Homo sapiens: one gene and its partners. The protein of the gene in region 1 binds, or shares a complex with, the protein of each later gene. Each region holds a gene or a part of one and is shown on either strand. Other genes may lie near its edges. A codon is read from its position in the direction of its gene.

Region 1 (5,814 bases):
AGGCCAGAAGCTCCTTTATTGCATGCATTCTCCAAATGCCTAAATCACCAATTTTTTCTTTCTTTCTTTCTTTCTTTCTTTCTTTCTTTCTTTCTTTCTTTCTTTCTTTCTTTCTTTCTTCTTTCTTTTTTTTTTTTTTTTTTTTGATACGGAGTCTTGCTCTGTTGCCTAGGCTGGAGTGCAGTGGTGCGATCTCAGCTCACTGCAAGCACCGCCTCCCGGGTTCACGCCATTCTCCTGCCTCAGCCTCCTGAGTAGCTGGGACTACAGGCACCCGCCACCACGTCCGGCTAATTTTTTGTATATGTAGTAGAGACGGGGTTTCACCGTGTTAGCCAGGATGGTCTCGATCTCCTGACCTCGTGATCTACCCGCGTTGGCTTCCCAAAGTGCTGGGATTACAGGTGTCAGCCACCACGCCCGGTCAATTTTTGTATTTTTAGCAGAGAGGAGGTTTCACTGTGTTGGCCAGGCTGGTCTCGAACTCCTGACTTCATGTGATCGGCCCACCTTGGCCTCACAAAGTGCTGAGATTACAGGCATGAGCCATCACGCCCCGCCCTAAAACACCAAATCTTATTAAATCTATATTCTACAACTCTGTCACATCCATCACTTCATCTCTGCCCACTCCTAGCACTGACTTAGCTGAGGACATCATCAATTCTGATCAAAGGACCCTAAGTCTAAGTAACAATACCACTTTCATGGTAGGCTTTCCCCGGAACCAGCTGGACATAATGAGAATTTTCAAGAGAATGTGAATTGCTCTTTACTTGATTTTCTTTTTTTTTGAGATGGAGTATCGCTTTTGTCGCCCAGGCTGGAGTGCAATGGTGCGATGTCAGCTCACTGCAACCTCCACCTCCCGGGTTCAAGCGATTCTCCTGTCAGCTTAGCCTCCTGGGTAGGTGGGATTACAGGCGCCCGCCACCAAGCCCGGCTAATTTTTTTTTTTTTTTTTTTGTATTTTTAGTAGAGATGGGGTTTCACCATGTTGGTCAGGCTGGTCTGGAACTCCTGACCTCAGGTGATCCGTCCGCCTCGGCCTCCCAAAGTGCCGGGATTTCAGGCACGAGCCACCGTTCCCGGCGATTTTCTTTTCTTTAAGACTAATCTGAAAGTGCGGAACTCTGTGTACCTGAAATGATTACATTTTGATATTGACATGAAAAAATTGGGTACTACTTTGCCCCAGTTTCTCAACCCAACAAAGACATTCCAAAAGTTTCCTATGGGGCCTAGGAAGGTTGGCCTTCACAGGATAGTGGCAGGAGTGTTAACTTTGTCCTATTACCAAAAGGTGTCAAAGCTGTTACTAAATTGTCTGTGTCAGTATCGGAAACCCCGACAGCACTGGAGAATTCCTCATGGTCCTTCCAGACCATGGTCACAGTGAGAAGCAGATTCTGTTGCCCTGGCCCTGTGGGGAAATCCCCAAGATGGCTGCTGATAGTTAAGGAAACAGTGTCCTGCCATGGCCTGACCCTAGGCTGGGTGAGAGAGAGTGGGTCAGACAGGCTGCACTTCCTCAGTGAGTGTGCATACACCTGTTCGCACTGCCTATCGTTTCCTCACCCAGTGTGAGAGCAGGGGGCTCAGTTGGGCTGAGTGGAGAATTCATGGGACCTTTCCATGGTCAAGGCCCAGAGCTTCTATTGTGTAGCATCCCTGGAACAGAGAACAGGAGGCAGTCACAAGGCCCCAGCTTCAACCTTTGACAGTACACCAGAAAAGACCAAGTAGTGAGGCCTCCACTGTCTCACACCAGCCAAGAAAGACCAGGTCTTAGACTATCCAGTGTTCCTGCCTCTCTTTCACGGTGCTGTATCTGGGGAATGAATACTCCATTGTCATAGGAGGGGCAGATGCGGGCGGAAGACTCAGAAGGGTCAAGGTAGGACATAGACATTCCCACTAAGCTAGAGACCCCTGAACTGCCATAGCCATGACATGCACACGTTGTCCTCAAATCCCAGGGCCATGGGCAGGTCTTGGATATCTTTGGAATTTTAAGTTGGTTGGCATCTGTCTAGTTTTAAACCTGATTTAGGTTCAGTTCAACCAGGGAGTATGATTCTTTGGGGAGAGGGCCCTGACCTAGAAATCTACATGCTCAGCGGTCTGCTCAGCCACTAATGGCTCTGACACACTGGAAAGGCACTCACCCTCTGGGAGTTTCAGACTGTATCTTTGAAAACAAAATTCAGTGGATGGGGTGCAAAGGTATTGTCCTCAACAGCTCTAAGTTACTACTTCTAACTCACAGAGCACATATCACAAAGGATCCCACTATCCATTGTCGGTCTGAGCAGGGAATGAGACTTTGGCAGACCATGAATCCTGTATTAATTTCTAGGGGGACTATAACAAAATACCACAGACTTGGGGGTTTAAACTGAGATTGCACCACTGCACTCCAGCCTGGGTGACAGAGTAAGACCCTGAGTCAAACAAAAAAAAAAAAAGTGTATACATGGGAGCACTCTGTGATGAGTAACTCAAAGGAGTGGTTAGAATTTGGGATCTACCTAGCAGCAGGGGAAAAGGAGGAGGAGTAAAGGACATATGGAAAACCAAATGACTTTTGAAAAGATAAATGGGCCCTTAGAATAGATGGAAGATTCGAGTCTTGTGACAATGTCTATTTGGGTGTGGTGACCACTTCTCATCTCCGAGGTTAGATTTGCTTCTAGTGCTGAAGAAGATTTATGACAACTGAGTTAAAAATTTGAGATTTGCGAGGAGGATCTGCTATTAAACAGGTAAGGGATTTTAGCTGTTTGTTTCAGCTGAAAATAATTCTTAAGTCGAAACTGGCACATTTGGAGGTAGCATGTCCTGATCCCCTTAAAAAGGGAACTGCACAGACACCGTATCTCTGATTCTGCCCAGGGTCCTGTGCCCTCTGACACCAGAAATCACCACTTCTCTCAGCCTTGTTTTGCGGTTGTTTTATCATGTTGCAATTTGGTTATGTCTTTTCTAATAGTGTTTAAAAGCAATCAAAGGCAGGAACTTTTCCTTTTATAAACTATTGTTGAGCTTATATTGGACACTGAACTAAGTGTCAGTTTACAAAAATGAATAAACAAAAATCACTGCCAGTAGGGAACACACAGCCAAGATGGGGGAGTAGTAAGATGTAAAGAGATGTAAAATAATGTGATAGATTCGGCCAGAGTTACTAAAGAGTCAGAAAAGGGCAAGCATGTTTCTTCCCTGTCCTGAAGCAGCCAAGGGAGAGGAAGATATCTGTTGCCAATGCTGGGGTGTTGGTTTAGGCATGTAGATGCTGTGATGCGCAGTGGAACCGTTCAATGAGCAGACAGGAGAACCAGCTTTATGCGGGGAGGGAGAGAATTGCTCCCCTCATCCCCCGTGAGTCACACCCTGGAGATTATAAGTTTAAACATTTTGATTTCGGGAGATTTTGAGTTTTGGGCTTAAAATGACTGAAGAACCACCAGGTGGATCTACGTGTCTCGAGTCCAGAAGTCTGAATACAGATTTACGATTTATGAGCACACAGAAGGTGGATCCAAGGGAGAGATTAAACAGGGCACAGAAGAGTTTTTAAAAATAATATTTTTCGGGAAAAAAACCCCAACAAAACACGATTCTTTCAGCAGAAACCAGAAGATTTTCTCATAGACTCTCCTACAGAGAGCCCTGATAAAGTAATAAACATGCTAACAGTAAGAACCCCAACCAATTTCATAGGGCAGTTTGCGGTAACTACTCCCAGTATGGAGCAGACAGTCCTCTTGCAAAACCCGATTTAGCAAACTTTGCTAGCTCCATGTGGGGCCTCCAAAGGACACAGCTGGGCACTAAATCCTGGCTGAAAACAAAGGCCGATTTAGAGGATCCGTAGAAACGGATGCACAGAATATCCCTCAGTCTTCTCTATGTAGCAGGCCCTCCATATACGCGGGTTCCCCAAGACCGAAAATATTAAACAAATGAATTTCTTTTTTAAAAAAAAGTACAACAAAAGATAGTAAAAATAAAAACAGTATAACAATTACTTACATAGCATTTACACTGGATTAGGTGTTACGAAGTAATTTAGAGACTATTTAAAGTACACGGGAGGATGTGCATAGTTATGTGCAAATACTACGCCACTTTCTATGAGAGACTTGAGCAACCTGGATTTTGGTATCGGCGGGGGCCCTGGACCAATCCCCTCTCAGTTCTACCGAGGGAGAACTGTTTTGTTTCTTCCAGCACGGCTTTGACCGACAGTGTGTTGGGATTCGCTGACGTCCATGAGAAAGCTTGGCAGCATGCTGAGACCAATTTTCCCAGGGCCAGAATTCTCCTGTGTGAGCTAAAATACAGTGGCTCGGTCCAACAAAACAGAGCCTGGAGCCAGGAATTATGGCGAACCTGCTCCCTCCCGTCCTCCCTTGGCGCACAGATCCCTGGCGCCGCCGCTCTTGAGGTCGCCTCTCGCGTGTCGACCTCATCGTCGGAACGGCGCTTCCTGAAGCTTTATATAAGCACGGCTCTGAATCCGCTCGTCGGGATTAAATCCTGCGCTGGCGCGCTCCTGCCAGTCTCTGGCCTCCATTTGCTCTTCCTGAGGCTCCCTCCAGAGACCTTTCCCTTAGCCTCAGTGCAATGCCTTCCGGGCGTCCTCAGACCAGACACAGGCCAAAGCCACTACAGAATCCGGAAGCCCCGGTTGGGATCTGAATTCTCCCGGGGACTGTGGCGTAGCGGTTAAAAAAAAAAAAGAGTGAGAGGGACCTGAGCAGAGTGGAGGAGGAGGGAGAGGAAAACAGAAAAGAAATGACGAAATGTCGAGAGGGCGGGGACAATTGAGAACGCTTCCCGCCGGCGCGCTTTCGGTTTTCAATCTGGTCCGATACTCTTGTATATCAGGGGAAGACGGTGCTCGCCTTGACAGAAGCTGTCTATCGGGCTCCAGCGGTCATGTCCGGCAGAGGAAAGGGCGGAAAAGGCTTAGGCAAAGGGGGCGCTAAGCGCCACCGCAAGGTCTTGAGAGACAACATTCAGGGCATCACCAAGCCTGCCATTCGGCGTCTAGCTCGGCGTGGCGGCGTTAAGCGGATCTCTGGCCTCATTTACGAGGAGACCCGCGGTGTGCTGAAGGTGTTCCTGGAGAATGTGATTCGGGACGCAGTCACCTACACCGAGCACGCCAAGCGCAAGACCGTCACAGCCATGGATGTGGTGTACGCGCTCAAGCGCCAGGGGCGCACCCTGTACGGCTTCGGAGGCTAGGCCGCCGCTCCAGCTTTGCACGTTTCGATCCCAAAGGCCCTTTTTAGGGCCGACCACTTGCTCATCTGAGGAGTTGGACACTTGACTGCGTAAAGTGCAACAGTAACGATGTTGGAAGGTAACTTTGGCAGTGGGGCGACAATCGGATCTGAAGTTAACGGAAAGCTACCGCGGCCCATAGCGCTCACAGCCGTAAAGACTTAAGTCGTTGACCGAAAGCGGCTTTTTCACTTACCTGGGCTTTTTTTTTTTTTTTTTTTTTTTTTAAAGCCTTTATCGGTATGAAAGGTTGAATGCTCTAGGTTTGAGCACTGCTTTCTCGGCTTGCTCTTCTGGTGCAGTATAGGCACACCTAGAGGGCCACGTCAGTCTTTGCGATCACCAAATCTGGTTCTGAGAAATAGGCACTGGCAATTTACACATGCCTTGCTGTGTAATCTCACTATATTTGCTCAGGCAAAGTGGGAGAAGCAGCCTTAGGTTTTCATTCTAGAGATGCCGGCTTTCCCACCTGATCGGCTTAGAGTTCACGATTGACTGTTTTGGGCTTCATTTCAC
Region 2 (6,951 bases), on another chromosome or scaffold:
GAGGCGGGCAGATCATGAGGTCAGGAGATCGAGACCATCCTGGCTAACATGGTGAAACCTCGTCTCTACTAAAAATACAAAAAATCAGCCGGGTGTGGTGGCGGGCACCTGTAGTCCCAGCTACTCGGGAGGCTGAGGCAGGAGAATGGCATGAACCCGGGAAGCGAAGCTTGCAGTGAGCCGAGATCATGCCACTGCACTCCAGCCTGGGTGACAGAGCGAGACTCCGTCTCAAGAAAAAAAAACAACACAACATGGATGGTGCCTGGCTCAAAGTAAGGGCTGACGGCTGCCAACCTCCAATGGTGGTCTCTGCCATCAGCACTCCTGGACCACGCGTGCCATCTCCTCTCCCACCCTGGGAGGCTAGGGGTACAACTACTGTCTCCAGTTTGCCAATGAAGATGGTGGCTGCGAAATAAAAGCCCAGCTGGTCTCCTGGCCGCCCTTTCATTGCCCCTGACACACTGTGTTGAGCTCAGAGAAAAAAGGGGGTCTTCTCCTGTCAGGAAGTAGGGGTACCTGCCCCTCTTGCTGAAGCTGCTGCCTCCAAGGACAGGTGCTCAGGCCTCCTCTGTGAGGGAGAGAGCCCTGTACACACCTGGCGGGACTCCACCCCGCCCCCAGGCTCACCCCTGCACACACCTCCCAGGGCCCCATTCGCACCCCCAGGCTCACCATGCTGGAGGTTCTGACAGATGGCTGCCCTCTGCACAGGCTTCTGGGAGCCCAGCCTGTAGGCCTTCTTCAGGGCTCGCTTGGCAGCCAAAAAGTCTCCCAGGTCTTGGAGGACCTGGAGAGCAAAGGACAGCAAAGGTTTTGCAGAATCCCCAAGGCCCGAATCTACGAGAGCCTGAGCTCGGAGCCACGCACAGCGGGTACCTGTGCAATAACCACGCAGCACTCGCTCTCCATGAACCGCTTCCTCATGGTGTGCGCACACTCCCGGGCACCCTCCAAGCAGCGCATAGCCTGGGAGTGCTGGCCCGCGCGCCAGTGGATGGTGCCCAGGTTGTAGCGGGCGCGGAATAGGTCCTCGTAAAGGTGGTTCTGCCTGCAGAGGGGTGACGACCACTGAGCACCCAGGAGTGTCCATGACAGCTGCTGATGCCACACGGGCCCCAGCCCTGCCATGCTGTGGTCTCAGGGCCCTAACCATGCCTGGCCTTCTCCCAGTGTGTGGCACAGGTGTGAGAGGTGGGGGGATGAGGCCCAGCCAGACTGCTCTCTCAGGAGGACTCTGGGAAAAATACTCCCCTAACTACTTCCTCCAGGAACAAGGGACTCCACTCCCTCCTGGGGCGGGGCAGGGCCTTACTCCGCAAGGAAGATGCTCTTCCTGAAGTAATCGTTGCACAGGGCTGTCTGCTGCAGGCTCTCAAAGGTGAGGCCCAGGTTGAGATAGAGGCGGGTCCTCATCTCATTCAGCTCTCCCTGGGCCAGTGTCCCTGGAAGATACCCCCCCAAACACTCAGCCACTTCCTCCCCACATGGGGTTTCCAGCTTTGGGCCCCATTTGGGGCCTGTGCAGCGCCTCTCCTACCCCCTCCCTCCTCCCGAGGTGGGTGCAAGTGTCCTGCGGCAGATGGAGCACAGAGTGGATAAAGAGCTGACGATCTCCAGGGGAAAGGTTGAGCGGGGCATGCACCCCTCACACAAGAGCCTTGCAAAGGGAGGGCTCCAGAAGACGGGATTGCCCAAGGAGGCTGCGGGGGTGCTGGGCTGCAGCCTCTTCGGCCCGAAGTTCAGGAGGCAGAAAACGCGGAGGGGTCTGCCCACCCTCCAGCTCCTCATCCACAATAGCCAAGCTCTTCTCAAAGGCAGCCTGTGCCTGCAGCAAAGCATCCCTCGACTGGCAGTGGTCATAGATGTCCAGGTGGGTGCGGCCGATGGTGGCCCAGGCCCTCTGCAGCTCCGTGTGGTTGCGCAGGGAATGTGCCAGCTCCAGGTACTGGTGCTGGTGCTGAGTGTGGAAGGAAGTCACTGCTGTGAGCCGACTCCGCCTCAAGCAAACCGGCACCGCCAGATTCCCAGAGACCCTGTTCTTGCTAAGGAAAGAGCCTGCTCCCCCTAACCCCCACAGAGCAGGCCAAGGCCAGACACGTGCCCCTCCTCTGCATGCCAAGGGCTCTCTGTGGTGACAGTGGCTTCACGCTGTATGCAGCCAACGCTGTCACGTGGGGAGGGGCAGCTGGGAGTTGGCGGGGGGGTTGCAGTCCTGCCTCCAGCAGCCAGGGTCAGGGAGAGCTTTTGGGATGGGGCCTGACCTCCCCCAACACAAACACAGCTAAAATAACGTTCAGTAATGGTTTCTGGTGCCAGGAAACCTACTCCTGCCCCAGTCCCAGGAAAGGCTGTGGGGTCCCCACCGGAGGACTGGCCCGGGGCGGTGAAGGCAAGGCTGCGTCAGGTCAGGTGTCCCCTCCAGCCCGAGGCTCCTGACGGCGAAGACCAGGCCTCCCTCCTCAGAAAAGGGCTCCAGAGGCCGACCGGGCTGGACGAGGCCAGTGAGGGCGCCCGCACCTGCAAGGCAGCCGGGTAGTCCTCCATCTCGGCCAGGCGCTCTCCGATCTTGCGGTGGGCCACGGCACAGCCCAGAGGGTCGTCAGCGCGCTCCCGAAGCTGCAGCTCCTGCCAGTGCTGCTCCAGAGCCTCGGCGTAGCGGCCTAGGCGGGGGCACAGCACGGCCTGGCAGGCGTCGCGGGTGCGAGGGCGGCCCTGGGGCGGCGTCTGCCGGAAGAGCCCGTCGCCCCCCGGCCCCCGATCCCGGCCCGGGCCCGGGCCCCGGCCCTGCCTCCCGCCTCCTGGTCCCGGCGCTCACCATGGCCGGCCAGGAGCTCCCCCAGCTGGTGGCACAGCGCGGCCTCTTCGCGCCGCTGCCCGGCCCTCTGCGCCTTGGCTTTCGCCTTGCTCAGCTCTGTGGGAGGAAGAGGAGGGCTGGGCCTCCGCGGCGGGGTCCGGGGCCGGGGCCGAGTCCCAAGCCCTCCCCAGCCTCCGCGCCCCCGGAGGAAGGGGTCCCCGAGGAACTTACGGCGAAGCTCGCGCTCCAGGCTCATGCTCGGATCGCCGCGGGATCCGGACTTCCCGCGCTGCGCCGCGGCCCCGCCCCTCGCCGCCGACACGCAGGCCCCGCCCCTCGCCGCCGACACGCAGGCCCCGCCCCTCGCCGCCGACACGCAGGCCCCGCCCCTCGCCGCCGACACGCAGGCCCCGCCCCTCGACGGCGGCGGCGGGCGCGGGGCATTCCGGGAAGTACGGTCGGCCCGCCCGCGGCATCCTCGGAGTTCTCGTGCGGGAGGAGCTGGGGCGGGGTGGCGGCGACAACTGGGGCGTCCCACCCTAGGGGCCGTCTTCCCGGACGCCGGGTTGGCCCGCGCGTGGAGCCCTCTGCCCGGCCCGGGGAGTGCCTGGTGGGGACCCCGTTCCTCCTCGTAGGCGGCGGGGACGCGGGAGGCCGGGGGCCCGGAGCCAGCCCGTCCGGGGTCGCAGCGCGCCCTGGGTGGGGTCTTCTGGGCTGCAGCCCCCGTGCCGCCCGCGCTACTCATGGTGGACGAGCTGTGCCGCCGCCCCAATTCCTCCCGAAATTCACACACACAGCCTGCTCACAGGCGCAACTATTAAAAACGAACGTAGTGTCCAGATAGACTGACGATAAATTCACGAGCATTTGGCTGTGGGGACGTAATAAGGTGTCAGGCGCGCTCCTCCTCCGCAGAACGCAGCTGGGTCACATTTGGGGACTCGGCCCCAAGGACTGTTTTGGGAGGGGAATGTGCTTTCCATAGTGAACAAGTATTGTTTCAGCAATGTGTATGCCAGCTGTATTCTCGGAAGAGTCAGTGAACCTGTGCTTCAGCTGCAGAAGTAGCCCGGGCACAGTGGCCCGCACTGTAATCCGAGCGCTATGGGAGGCCCGGTCAGGAGGATCGCTTGAGCCTAGCAGTACGAGACCAGCCTGGGCAACATAGTGAGGCCCCATCTTTCGTGTGTGTGTGTGTGTGAGACGGAGTCTCGTTCTGTCACCCAGGCTGGCGTGCAATGGTGTGATCTCGGCTCACCACAACCTCCGCCTCCCGAGTTCAAGCGATTTTCCTGCCTCAGCCTTCCAAGTAGCTGGGACTACAGGCGCGTGCCAGCATGCCCGGCTAATTTTTGCATTTTAGTAGAGACGGGGTTTCACCATGCTGGCCAGGCTGGTTTCAAACTCCTGACCTTGTGATCCGCCCACCTCGGCCTCCCAAAGTGCCGGTATTACAGGTGTAAGCCACCATGCCCAGCCCGATACCCCATCTTTATTTAAAAAAAAGAAAGGGAGGGAGGGAGGAAAAGAAAGAAAGGAAGAAAGAGAGGGCCGGGCGCAATGGCTCACCCCTGTAATCCCAGCACTTTGGGAGGCTGAGGCAGGCAGATCATGGGGTCAGTGGATCGAGACCATCCTGGCTAACACGGTGAAACCCCATCTCTACTAAAAATACAAAAAATTAGCCGGGCGTGGTGGCGGGTGTCTGTAGTCCCAGCTACTGGGGAGGCTGAGGCAGGAGAATGGCGTAAACCCGGGAGGCAGAGCTTGCAGTGAGCGGAGATGGCGCCACTGCACTCCAGCCTGGGCAACAGAGCGAGACTCTTGTCTCAAAAAAAAAAAAAAAAAGGAAGAAAGAGAGAAAACAACTGCAAAATTATGTCTAGAATCCTGTGACATGGGGCACCCAGGCCTCTAAAATACCCTTGCTATCCCCCATTACCTTGAGGACCAAACACCTGCCATGCCTTGGGTATCTGACTCCCGGCTACACAGCACACCCAGCACTGCACTCAGGTGCAGTGGCTGGTTTCCCAGAGGCCCCAGAGGAGGCTGGGTGCACAGAGTCCAACTGAGGAGCCTCAGGAGTGGAAGATAGATGAGTTAATTTCCATCGTAATTACAGCAAGTCGTTGGGCAAAACTCAGCCAGAGAGATCTGTTGGGGAGAGAGTGGTGTGATGCACTGACAGGTCCCTGGGTCCAGTAAAGGCTGCTGGAGCCCTCCTCAGGCTGACGGCAGAGCGCTGGCCTCCTGGCGTGGCCCCTGGACTGGGCAGATTTGGGCCTCGGTGCCTCCAAGGCTGCAGGGGTGGGACCAGGCCAAGCCTGCACACCTGTGCAGTCACAAGCTGCAGGAGGCAGGAAATCCAGGCAGGCCTGGGTGTGAGGACAGGTTGTGGAGGTCTGCACTGCCAACCCCTTGCCCATCCAAAGCATGGCTCTGAGCCAAGGCAACTACTTGGAGGGCAAGCTGGTGAGGTGTGTGAGGGGCACAGTGAGGCTTGAGGGAGGGAGTGGGGAGTGAGATTCAGAATCAGAGGACTCAGATGAACAGCTGAAGACAGGGTGGCTTGGACACCAGAGGGGCTCCCTGAGCTACCTGGACAACGATTAAGTATCCCCTTCAGCCCCAGGGTCCACAGGACAGCCCAGCTCCTGGAAGCCGAATTCCCCTTCAGAGACAACCCAATTTCTCTCTTTTTTTTTTTTTTTTTTCCGAGACAGAATTTTGTTCTTGTTGCCCAGGCTGGGGCACAATGGCGTGATTCTGGCTCACTGCAACCGCCTTCTCTCAGGTTCAAGTGATTCTCCTGCCTCAGCCTCTTGAGTAGCTGGGATTACAGATGCCCACCACCACGCCCAGCTAATTTTTGTATTTTTGTAGAGACAGGGTTTCACCATGTTGGTTAGGCTGGTCTCGAACTCCCAACCTCAGGTCATCCACCCGCCTCAGCCTCCCAAAGTGCTGGGATCACAGGCGTGAGCCACCATGCCCGGCTGACAACCCAATTTCTCTGTGCCTGTTTCCCCAGTAACCAGACAAGGTACACACGTCAGGCAGTGCTGTGCAGGGCTGCAGGCCTGGTGCAGATTGCCACAGGCTGAGGGCAGCAGGGGAGGCCAGCAGAGCCCAGAAGGCCCAGCTGTGTGTCTGTCTTCTGGTAAGGAAACACAGACAAAACATGGGTTGGAATATTTTTTTAAACTACAGTTGTTACATACAGAAAATATCCAAAGAGAACGCAGACCACAAAAGTGACACATAAGTCATTTCCAACAATGGTAAAAACACTTCTTGCTCTGCTCTTTAAAAAATTATTATTTTTTTGAGACGGAATCTCGCTTTGTCACCCAGGCTGCAGTGCAGTGGCACAATCTCAGCTCACTGAAACCTCTGCCTCCTGGGTTCAAGCGATTCTCCTGCCTCAGCCTCCTGAGTAGCTGGGATTACAGGCGCGCGCCACCACGCCCAGCTAATTTTTGTATTTTTAGTAGAGATGGGGTTTCACCATGTTGGTCAGGCTGGTCTCAAACTCCTAACCTCAGGTGATCCGCCCGCCTCGGCCTCCCAAAGTGCTGGGATTATAGGCGTGACCCACCGTGCCTGGCCTATTTTTATAAATGAGGGATGTGGTGCTCACCAGGGGGTGGGGATGAGACAAGGGAGGGAGAAGGGTGGGGCCTGGCTTAGGCTATGCCCCCCACATCTGCGGAGTGTGGACCCCCACGCCCCCATCCTCAGAGAAGACAAAGGAGCAGGTCGGGACGTCAAGATGTCTCAGGGTCTTGGACACAAGCCGTGTGTTTGGCGGTCCTGTCATGTGTGGCCCACGTTGGCAACGCCACGGGAAGCCCGTGCTCCAGTTCCCGGTGGCCGAGGACCCACCGTGGTCCTCCCAGGTGCCTGGCTCCCCCAGGCCATAAGGCTCAGCTGCTGCATGTCATGGTCACAGGGCAGATGCCTGCTGAGTACGCTGGGCCGCACTTGCAGACTTGAGGCACCCACATCCCACATCTGGAAGGGCCTTGTGTGGACACTGCCCTTGCCCTCAGGCCAGCCCCTCCCATCCTGAACTCCCACAGGGCTGGTTGCCCCGGGACTGCGGAGGTGGGGCTGCAGGAGCTCAACCAGCCCCGGGTCTCCTTTCT
Region 3 (7,373 bases), on another chromosome or scaffold:
CTTCTTCTTCTTTTTTTTTTTTTTTTTTTTTTTTCTTTTGCGACAGGTCTTGCTCTGTTGCCCAGGCTGGAGTACAATGGCATAATCATAGCTCACTACATCCTCAAACTCCTGGGCTCAAGTGCTTCGCCTTCCTCAGCCTCCCAAGTACCTGGGACTATAGGTGCATGCCACCATGCCTGGCTGATTTTTTTTTTTTTTTTCTAGATACGGAGTCTTGCTACGTTGCCCACGCTGGTCTTGAACTCCTGGGCTCAAGTGATCCTCCTGCTTCAGCCTCCCAAAATGTTGATATTACCGGCATAAGCCACTGTGCCTGGCCTAGTTTGGGCATTTCTAGGCCTTTTTAGTAGACTGAACTAAAAGAGACTATAATATAGTCTCTTTTGCTGAAAATCTGGGTTCCTAACCACACAAGTATTTGCTCTTCCTAATGTATACATAAATACATAGGTATGCATATATGTAACAATACCAATATTTTCTAGCCATAGTATGACTGAAGGTAAGCTTTCTTTGGGGTAGTATAAAATTTCTGTGTTTGCCAATCACTTGAAATAATAACTCCTTGTGTGCATCACACACATCCATGTTGCTGCCTGTGTCAGTCAGTGTAGAGTTCTCCAGAAAATCGGAGCCCAATATGATAGATGCAAGAGATTGATCAGGAGGAGTGGCTTAAGTGGTTATGGAGTCTGAGAAGTCCCATGATCTGCTGTCTGCAAGATGGAGACCCAAGAAAGCCTGTGGTATAACTTAGTCCCACTCCAAAGCCCTGAGAACCAGGGACACCAGTGGCATAAGTCCTGGAGTCAAAAGACCTGAGAACCAGGAGCTCTGATGTCTGAGGGTGGAAGAGGATGTCCCAACTCAAGAAGAGACAGAATTTGCCCTTCCTCTACTTTTTGTTCTTTTCAGACTCAACAGGTTGGATGATGCCCCAGATACTGCCCAGGTTGGTGAGGGCGGATCTTCTGTACTCAGTCTACTGATTCAAATGCTAAAGTCTTCCAGAAACACCCTCATAGTCAGAAGTAATGTTGACCACCTATCGGGTATGTCTTAGCCCGGGCAAACTGAGGCATAAAATTAACTATCACAGTATTTCTTTTGGATTACCGAGTAGAATACCGTGGTATGAATATGGCACAGTCTGATTACCTTTTCTCCTGTGGGTGGACATTTGGTGTCTTTCTAGTTTGGGGCTATTATGGATAATGATTCTTGTATGAGTTTGCTTTTGTTTTCCTGATATATATGCCAAGGAGTGGAATTGCTGAGTCATAGGGTAGGCGTATCATTAACTTTATTAGACAGTGCTGAACAGTTTTCTAAAGTATTTACATCAGTTTACACTTCCACCAGTAGTGTGCCAGAGGTCCCGTTGTTCTCAATCTCCTGTATTGATTTCCGTCATTTCTATTTTTCTTTTTCTTTCTTTTTTTTTTTTTTTTTTTCAGACTGAGTCTGTTTCTGTCGCCCAGACTGGAGTGCAGTGGCATGATCTTGGCTCACTGCCCTCTGGGTTCAAGTGATTCTAGTGCCTCAGCCTCCGAGTAGCTGGGATTACAGGCGCCACCACCATGCCTGGCTGTTATTATTATTATTATTATTATTATTTTTGAGATGGAGTTCTGCTCTTGTTGCCCAGGCTGGAGTGCAATGGCGCAATCTCGGCTCACTGCAATCTCCGCCTCCCAGGTTGAAACGATTCTCTGGCCTCAGCCTCCTGAGTAGCTGGGATTACAGGTGCCTGCCACCGCGCCTGACCTATTTTTTCTATTTTTAGTAGAGATGGGGTTTCACCATGTTGGCCAGGCTGGTCTCAAATTCCTGACCTCAAGTGATCCGCCCGCTTCAGCCTCCCAGATGCTGCAATTACAGGCGTGAGCCACTACGCCTGGCTTCTCCTAGTTTTCTTATTCTGATATTTGCTCAACATTTTTTTCCAACCCTGTACTGAATTTTGTATGTCTGTTATCAAAGCTTTTTTTTTTTTTTTTTTTGAGACAGAATCTCACTCTGCCACCCAGGCTGGAGTGCAGTGGTGCCATCTCAGCTCACTGCAACCTCCAAGTCCCGGGTTCAATGGATTCTCTTGCCTCAGCCTCCCTAGTATCCCGAGTAGCTGGGATTACAGGCACACACTACCACTCTGTATAGTTTTTGTATTTTTATAGAGAAGGGGTTTTGCCATGTTGGCCAGGCTGGTCTGGAACTCCTAGCCTCAAGCAATCTGCCTGCTTTGGCCTCCCAAAGCGTTGGGATTATAGATGTGAGCCACCATGCCCGGCTCAGATTTTGATTTTAGAATGTTCACACTTACAAATGGAAATTAAAATGCCTTGAGAAGTTTTTTTTCGAAGCTGAGTTAAGAGTTAGTCCCTTTATATCAATTTTCATTATTAAAAAGTTCTCAGGAACCAAATAACATTGGTCCCCTTAAATTGAGGCAGTTCTGCTCAAAATGGATGCTTGGGGCCCAAGCTGAACAACAGTGGTTGTTGAGGAATCTAGTTAGAATTGCGTTATAGGAATTCCCTTTTTTTTTTTTTTTTTTTTTTTTGAGACAGAGTCTCGCTCTCTCGCCCAGGCTGGAGTGCAGTGGCACGATCTCGGCTCACTGCAAGCCCCGCTTCCCGGGTTCACGCCATTGTCTTGCCTCAGCCTCCCGAGTAGCTGGGACTACAGGCGCCCGCCGCCACGCCCGACTAATTTTTTGTAATTTTTGTAGAGATGGGGTTTCACCATGTTAGCCAGGATGGCCTCGATCTCCTGACCTCATGATCCGCCCACCTCGGCCTCCTAAAGTGCTGGGATTACAGGCGTGAGCTACCGCGACCGGCAGGAATTCTTTAGTCCAACATTTGTGGTGCAAACTTTGAGGTTTTGAACAAATACTTTTTTTTTTTTTTTTGAGAAAATATTTGACAGCCCAGGGCCTCTCTCTAGAGCCGCATCCCCTGCCCGTGTTGGCTCATCAAGTTGGCACTGAAGTCGGATCTCTAAAATGTTCGCCAAGAAAGCCAACTCCTTCATGTACTTTTAATACTTAAAGCATGTGTTTTTATCTTTTAAATCCACAGTTCAGAGTCGTGACACTTCAAGAGGTGGGCAGATTATTCATTTGTGAATGAACAGCATTTATGAGAAATTTGGAGAAATTTTATGTTTGAGAGACACGAAGAATCCAGAGCTTTCCAAAACAGACTGATGATCACACCCACCGGGGAGTTTATGAAAATGCAAGCCCCTGGAGCACGGGCCTCTGCTGGATATTCGGAATCATGGGGCTGAGTAGGGCCAGGAATCTGTACTTTTAGAACAGCCATATTATCTAAAGTATATAGTCATTCCCAGTCCAAGCTCTGTAAATCCTGAAGAGAAAAATCTAAAAACTGCATATCCGGATTATGTTATTCTAGCTTCCTGTAGAAATCAGGCTTCAAGGAGCATACAGCCATTCTCATCAACATGAGACACGGATTTGTAGGCAATTTCTGTACCTTTCATAAAGCTGGCTAAAAGCATCAGCCGGTATTTATATAAGAATCCATGTCTGTTCTTTTTTTCCAAAAATCCTAGAGCAGTTGGCTCCTCAGATAACCCTGTGTGTTTCTTTTATCCAGTAAAAGCAGCGCATCCAGAGGTACTTGTTTCCTGGCCTTCTGCGAAGCCCACAGATAAATTAGGTCTCATTTGGAAACGTCCCATTTCGAAAAGCCTGAGGTATCTATCTCTGCCTACCGACTGATTTACAGCCTCACTTTAAAATGTTAGTCTGTTCTTAAAAAGGGTTTATAACTGCATCTACTATAATAATAAAATGTAAGCAACCTTGCGCTAGGTACTGAACAATTTCATAGCTTTGAACTCTCCAAAATGTTCTAGAAGCCAATACAGAAAACCCAAAAATCTCAGTTTTTGTTTGCAGAAGGGGCAAGAGAACCGGTTGTGTTAGCCCTCCAAGTGCCCAGCGCCAGCATAGGGTCTGTCTAACACACAGCCCAGGCTCTGTAAACCTTTGCTAAAAGAGCGAATCAACAAGGAATAAGTAATGGATAATAATAATAAATAATAATGAATCCATTCTTCCTTCGGTCGTGGGTCTGGCAGGCATAAATTCCGGCCGGGATTCCGACCCCAGGGCCAGAGCAGGACTCGCCTTGGCGTCTATGAGTGGGCGGGGCTTCCCTGGGGTACCGCCCACGTCGGGCGGGACCTGAGGGCCGCTGGAGGGGCGGGGCGTCTATGAGGTCCCGCCCATGCGGGGGCGGGGCCTGCGGCGCGCGGGAAGCGGCGCGCGCTGCGCGGGAGGTGACGGTGCCTCTGACTGTCCGGGTCCCTCCAGGTACGGCTTCCCTGGCCCGGGCAGCTCCGCGGCTCTTTTGGTCGCGTCGGTCCGGGCCAGAGGCCCTCGCCGAGGGCGGGCCCCTGGGCCCCGGGATAGCTCCGGAGCGGCGCGCGTTGGGGCGGCGGGGCCCCGTCCACCCCCGGCCCCGCGCGGCCTCCTCCCGGCGGCCTCAGTCCCAGCTTCCCGGGCCCAGCGCCCGGTCCCTGGGAAAGGCGGGGTTCTCCTCTCGCCCCGCCGCCCCGGTCCCCTACCCCGTTTGGCCCCCTCTTCCGGGAGGCTCCTCCCGGGGCGGGCCCCTCCCCGGGCTCTCAGGGCGCGCCCCTAGCCCCTACTAAGCGGGGACAGGCCGTGCAGACGGCCGGGGCCCCTAGGTAGCCTTTACCTGGGTGTTTCGTTTTGCTTTTCTGGATGTAGCGGCGTATCATAAACTTGTGGATGTCAGGACCCAGCGAAGCATTTTAGGTGGAGCTAGCAAGGTGTTATTGTCAGATGGCAACGTTAACATCCTTTCCCAATGCAGTGTGCATTTTAAATGGCTCCTGGCCCCTATTCAGCGCTCAATAACCCTTTGCTGCTGTTAACACTGTTGTTTAATCCATCACCAGCATTTTGCAGCTTTCTCCTGTCTTGAAGAAGTAGAACGGTGCCCGAGAAACGTTTTTCCCCTTCGAGACTCAGGAGGATGAAAGTCATCACTTGTGAAATAGCCTGGCACAACAAGGAGCCCGTGTACAGCCTGGACTTCCAGCATGGGACGGCTGGGAGGATCCACAGACTGGCGTCTGCCGGCGTGGACACCAATGTCAGGGTAAACTGGGGCAGAGATAGACATCCGGGAACACTGCTTGAAGCAATAGTTTTCATTCTTTTACTTAAAACCAGTGTCGGCTGGGCGCGGTGGCTTACGCCTGTAATCCCAGTGCTTTGGGAGGCTGAGGTGAGAGGATCGCTTGAGTCCAGGAGTTCGACACCAGCCTGGGCAACAGCCAGACATGAAAAAGTAGCGGGACGTGGCAGTGTGCAGCTGTAGGCCCAGCTACTTGGGAAGTTGAAGTGAGAGGATCGCTTGAGCCTAGGAGTTTGAAGCAAGCAACGATCACTCCACTGCACTCCAGCCTGGGTGACAGAGCCAGACCCTTCTCTTAAGTAAATGAATGAATGAATTAACGTATGTCAACAAACTAAACTACTTTGTCATCTAGCCCAGAATGCTAAATTTCCAGGGCCTGCGGTGAACAATGAAAGCAAAAGAGAGCTGCTTTCTTTTTTTTTTTTTTGAGACGGAGTCTTGCTCTGTTGCCCAGGTGGGAGTGCAGTGGTGCAATCTCGACTTACTGCAACCTCTGTCTCCCAGGTTCAAGCTATTCTCCTGCCTCAGCCTCCCAAATAACTGGGACTACAGCCGCTCATCACCACACCTGGCTAATTTTTGTATTTTTAGTAGAGATGGGGTTTTACCATGTTGGCCAGGCTGGTCTCAAACTCCTGACCTCAGGTGATCCACCCACCTTGGCCTCCCAAAGTGCTGGGATTACAGGCCTGAGCCACCATGCCCGGCTCTGCTTTCTTATTTGATTCATTTTCCCTAGATTATTGTAACTGGACGTTCATTGTTTTGGGATCCTGATCCTGGTTCCTACTGGGTAACAAGTTGCTCTAGAAAGAAGGCGGAGGGGGACAGTAGACATTTATGTTTTAGATAGGGAGTTCTTTGATTTTATGTTTCAAAAGAAAAACTAAGTTTTCTTTCTGAAAATAAGCATAGTTTTGTTTTTTTTTTTTTTTTGAGACAGGGTCTTACTCTGTCGCCCAGGCTGGAGTGCAGTGGCCTGATCTTGGCTCAGTGCAGCCCCGACCCGGGGCTCAAGTGATCCTCCCTCTTAAGCCTCCCGCATAACTGGAACTACAGGCATGTGCCATCACACTTGGCTAATTTTTTAAATTTTCTGTAGAGACTAGGTCTCACTGTGTTTCCAGGCTGGTCTTGAACTCCTGGCCTCAAGTGATTTACCCACCTTGGCCTCCTAAACTGCTGGGATTACAGTTGTGAGCCACCACACCCAGCCCATAGTATTGTTTTAATACAGACAGTATAATATGTGCCCATTCTATGTTTTTCAAATGAATGTGTTGGTATTGACAGATCTGGAAGGTAGAAAAGGGACCAGATGGAAAAGCCATCGTGGAATTTTTGTCCAATCTTGCTCGTCATACCAAAGCCGTCAATGTTGTGCGTTTTTCTCCAACTGGGGAAATTTTAGCATCGGGAGGAGATGGTGAGTATTGCTGTCCTTCAGAGATTCTTCGGGAACCAGATAGATACCTGTGTGTCTTGTGTCAGATAGTGAGATTTGAGCTGGATATGCTTTTTTTTTTTTTTTGAGATAGAGTTTCACTCTTGTTCCCCAGGCTGGAGTGCAGTGGTGCAAACTCGACTCACTGCAACCTCCGCCTCCTGGGTTCAAGCGATTCTCCTGCCTCAGCCTCCTGAGTAGCTGGGATTACAGGCGCCTGCCACCACGCCCGGCTAGTTTTTTTGTGTGTTTTTAGTAGAGACAGGGTTTCATCATGTTGGTCAGGCTGATCTCGAACTCCTGACCTCAGGTGATCCACCTGCCTCGGCCTCCCAAAGTGTTGGGATTACAGGCGTGAGCCACTGCGCCCGGCCTGGATATGCTTTTTAGTTCAGGTGTGGCTGACCCTCTCAATCTGTCATTTAGGTAGTTCAGTAAAATACTGTTCTAGGGAATGTGGTAGAGTCAGGGAGGGAGGACAGCAAGATGAAACCAGGAACACCTGTTTGAAAACAGCTGCTTTCCCGCAAGCTCCCACCAGGCTGTTCTAAGACGAGATGGAAAGGCACTTACCATTCTGTCACATCCCAAGCAAGGCGACTGTTCTGGTTTTGTTGGATTGTTAGTTTAACATCTGTGGTGATCAGAGTCAGTTCTGTGTCTCTGTGTAATTAATTAAATGGCTTTAGGACTGTGTTAGTAATTAATTGGCTTTGGGAGTTTTT

Evidence for each region. Proteins that work in one complex are often made in the same cells at the same time.
Region 2: the proteins of H4C15 (region 1) and TONSL are in contact, whole or in part, in a crystal structure (PDB 5JA4), measured with the Homo sapiens proteins. Residues at the interface, in NP_001029249.1 of Homo sapiens: Lys13 (codon at 4,981), Gly14 (codon at 4,984), Gly15 (codon at 4,987), Ala16 (codon at 4,990), Lys17 (codon at 4,993), Arg18 (codon at 4,996), His19 (codon at 4,999), Arg20 (codon at 5,002), Lys21 (codon at 5,005), Val22 (codon at 5,008), Leu23 (codon at 5,011), Arg24 (codon at 5,014), Asp25 (codon at 5,017), Ile27 (codon at 5,023), Gln28 (codon at 5,026), Glu54 (codon at 5,104), Gly57 (codon at 5,113), Val58 (codon at 5,116), Lys60 (codon at 5,122), Glu64 (codon at 5,134); in NP_038460.4 of Homo sapiens: Arg524, Asn526, Asp527, Met528, Glu530, Asp559, Tyr560, Cys561, Trp563, His567, Glu568, Asn571, Tyr572, Gly595, Glu597, Ile599, Asp604, Asn607, Cys608, Gly609, His610, Trp641, Tyr645, Asp648, Leu649, Asp650, Thr653.
Region 3: the proteins of H4C15 (region 1) and CHAF1B are in contact, whole or in part, in a cryo-EM structure (PDB 8IQG), measured with the Homo sapiens proteins. Residues at the interface, in NP_001029249.1 of Homo sapiens: Thr72 (codon at 5,158), Tyr73 (codon at 5,161), Thr74 (codon at 5,164), His76 (codon at 5,170), Ala77 (codon at 5,173), Lys78 (codon at 5,176), Arg79 (codon at 5,179), Met85 (codon at 5,197), Asp86 (codon at 5,200), Val88 (codon at 5,206), Tyr89 (codon at 5,209), Lys92 (codon at 5,218), Arg93 (codon at 5,221), Gly95 (codon at 5,227), Thr97 (codon at 5,233), Leu98 (codon at 5,236), Tyr99 (codon at 5,239), Gly100 (codon at 5,242), Phe101 (codon at 5,245), Gly102 (codon at 5,248); in NP_005432.1 of Homo sapiens: Lys13 (codon at 5,073), Pro15 (codon at 5,079), Tyr17 (codon at 5,085), Val37 (codon at 5,145), Lys67 (codon at 6,570), Ala68 (codon at 6,573), Asn70 (codon at 6,579), Asp86 (codon at 6,627), Asp87, Glu130, Asp131, Tyr133, Val149, Asn151, Lys171, Tyr173, Gln175, Asp231, Met233, Lys234, Ser235, Phe236, His347, Thr348, Thr366, Asp367.

Annotation. Positions count from the first base shown.
Region 1 is NC_000001.11:149,860,262-149,866,075, reverse strand, and holds H4C15 (histone H4), read left to right. Parts: upstream 1-4,916; 5' UTR 4,917-4,944; coding exon 4,945-5,256; 3' UTR 5,257-5,312; downstream 5,313-5,814. UniProt on the Homo sapiens protein: Core component of nucleosome. Nucleosomes wrap and compact DNA into chromatin, limiting DNA accessibility to the cellular machineries which require DNA as a template.
Region 2 is NC_000008.11:144,441,359-144,448,309, forward strand, and holds the start of TONSL (tonsoku-like protein), read right to left. Parts: upstream 3,083-6,951; 5' UTR 3,057-3,082; coding exon 3,032-3,056; intron 2,918-3,031; coding exon 2,822-2,917; intron 2,667-2,821; coding exon 2,524-2,666; intron 1,964-2,523; coding exon 1,780-1,963; intron 1,449-1,779; coding exon 1,319-1,448; intron 1,055-1,318; coding exon 883-1,054; intron 794-882; coding exon 679-793; intron 1-678. UniProt on the Homo sapiens protein: Component of the MMS22L-TONSL complex, a complex that promotes homologous recombination-mediated repair of double-strand breaks (DSBs) at stalled or collapsed replication forks.
Region 3 is NC_000021.9:36,381,101-36,388,473, forward strand, and holds the start of CHAF1B (chromatin assembly factor 1 subunit B), read left to right. Parts: upstream 1-4,291; 5' UTR 4,292-4,351; intron 4,352-4,959; 5' UTR 4,960-5,036; coding exon 5,037-5,162; intron 5,163-6,497; coding exon 6,498-6,630; intron 6,631-7,373. UniProt on the Homo sapiens protein: Acts as a component of the histone chaperone complex chromatin assembly factor 1 (CAF-1), which assembles histone octamers onto DNA during replication and repair.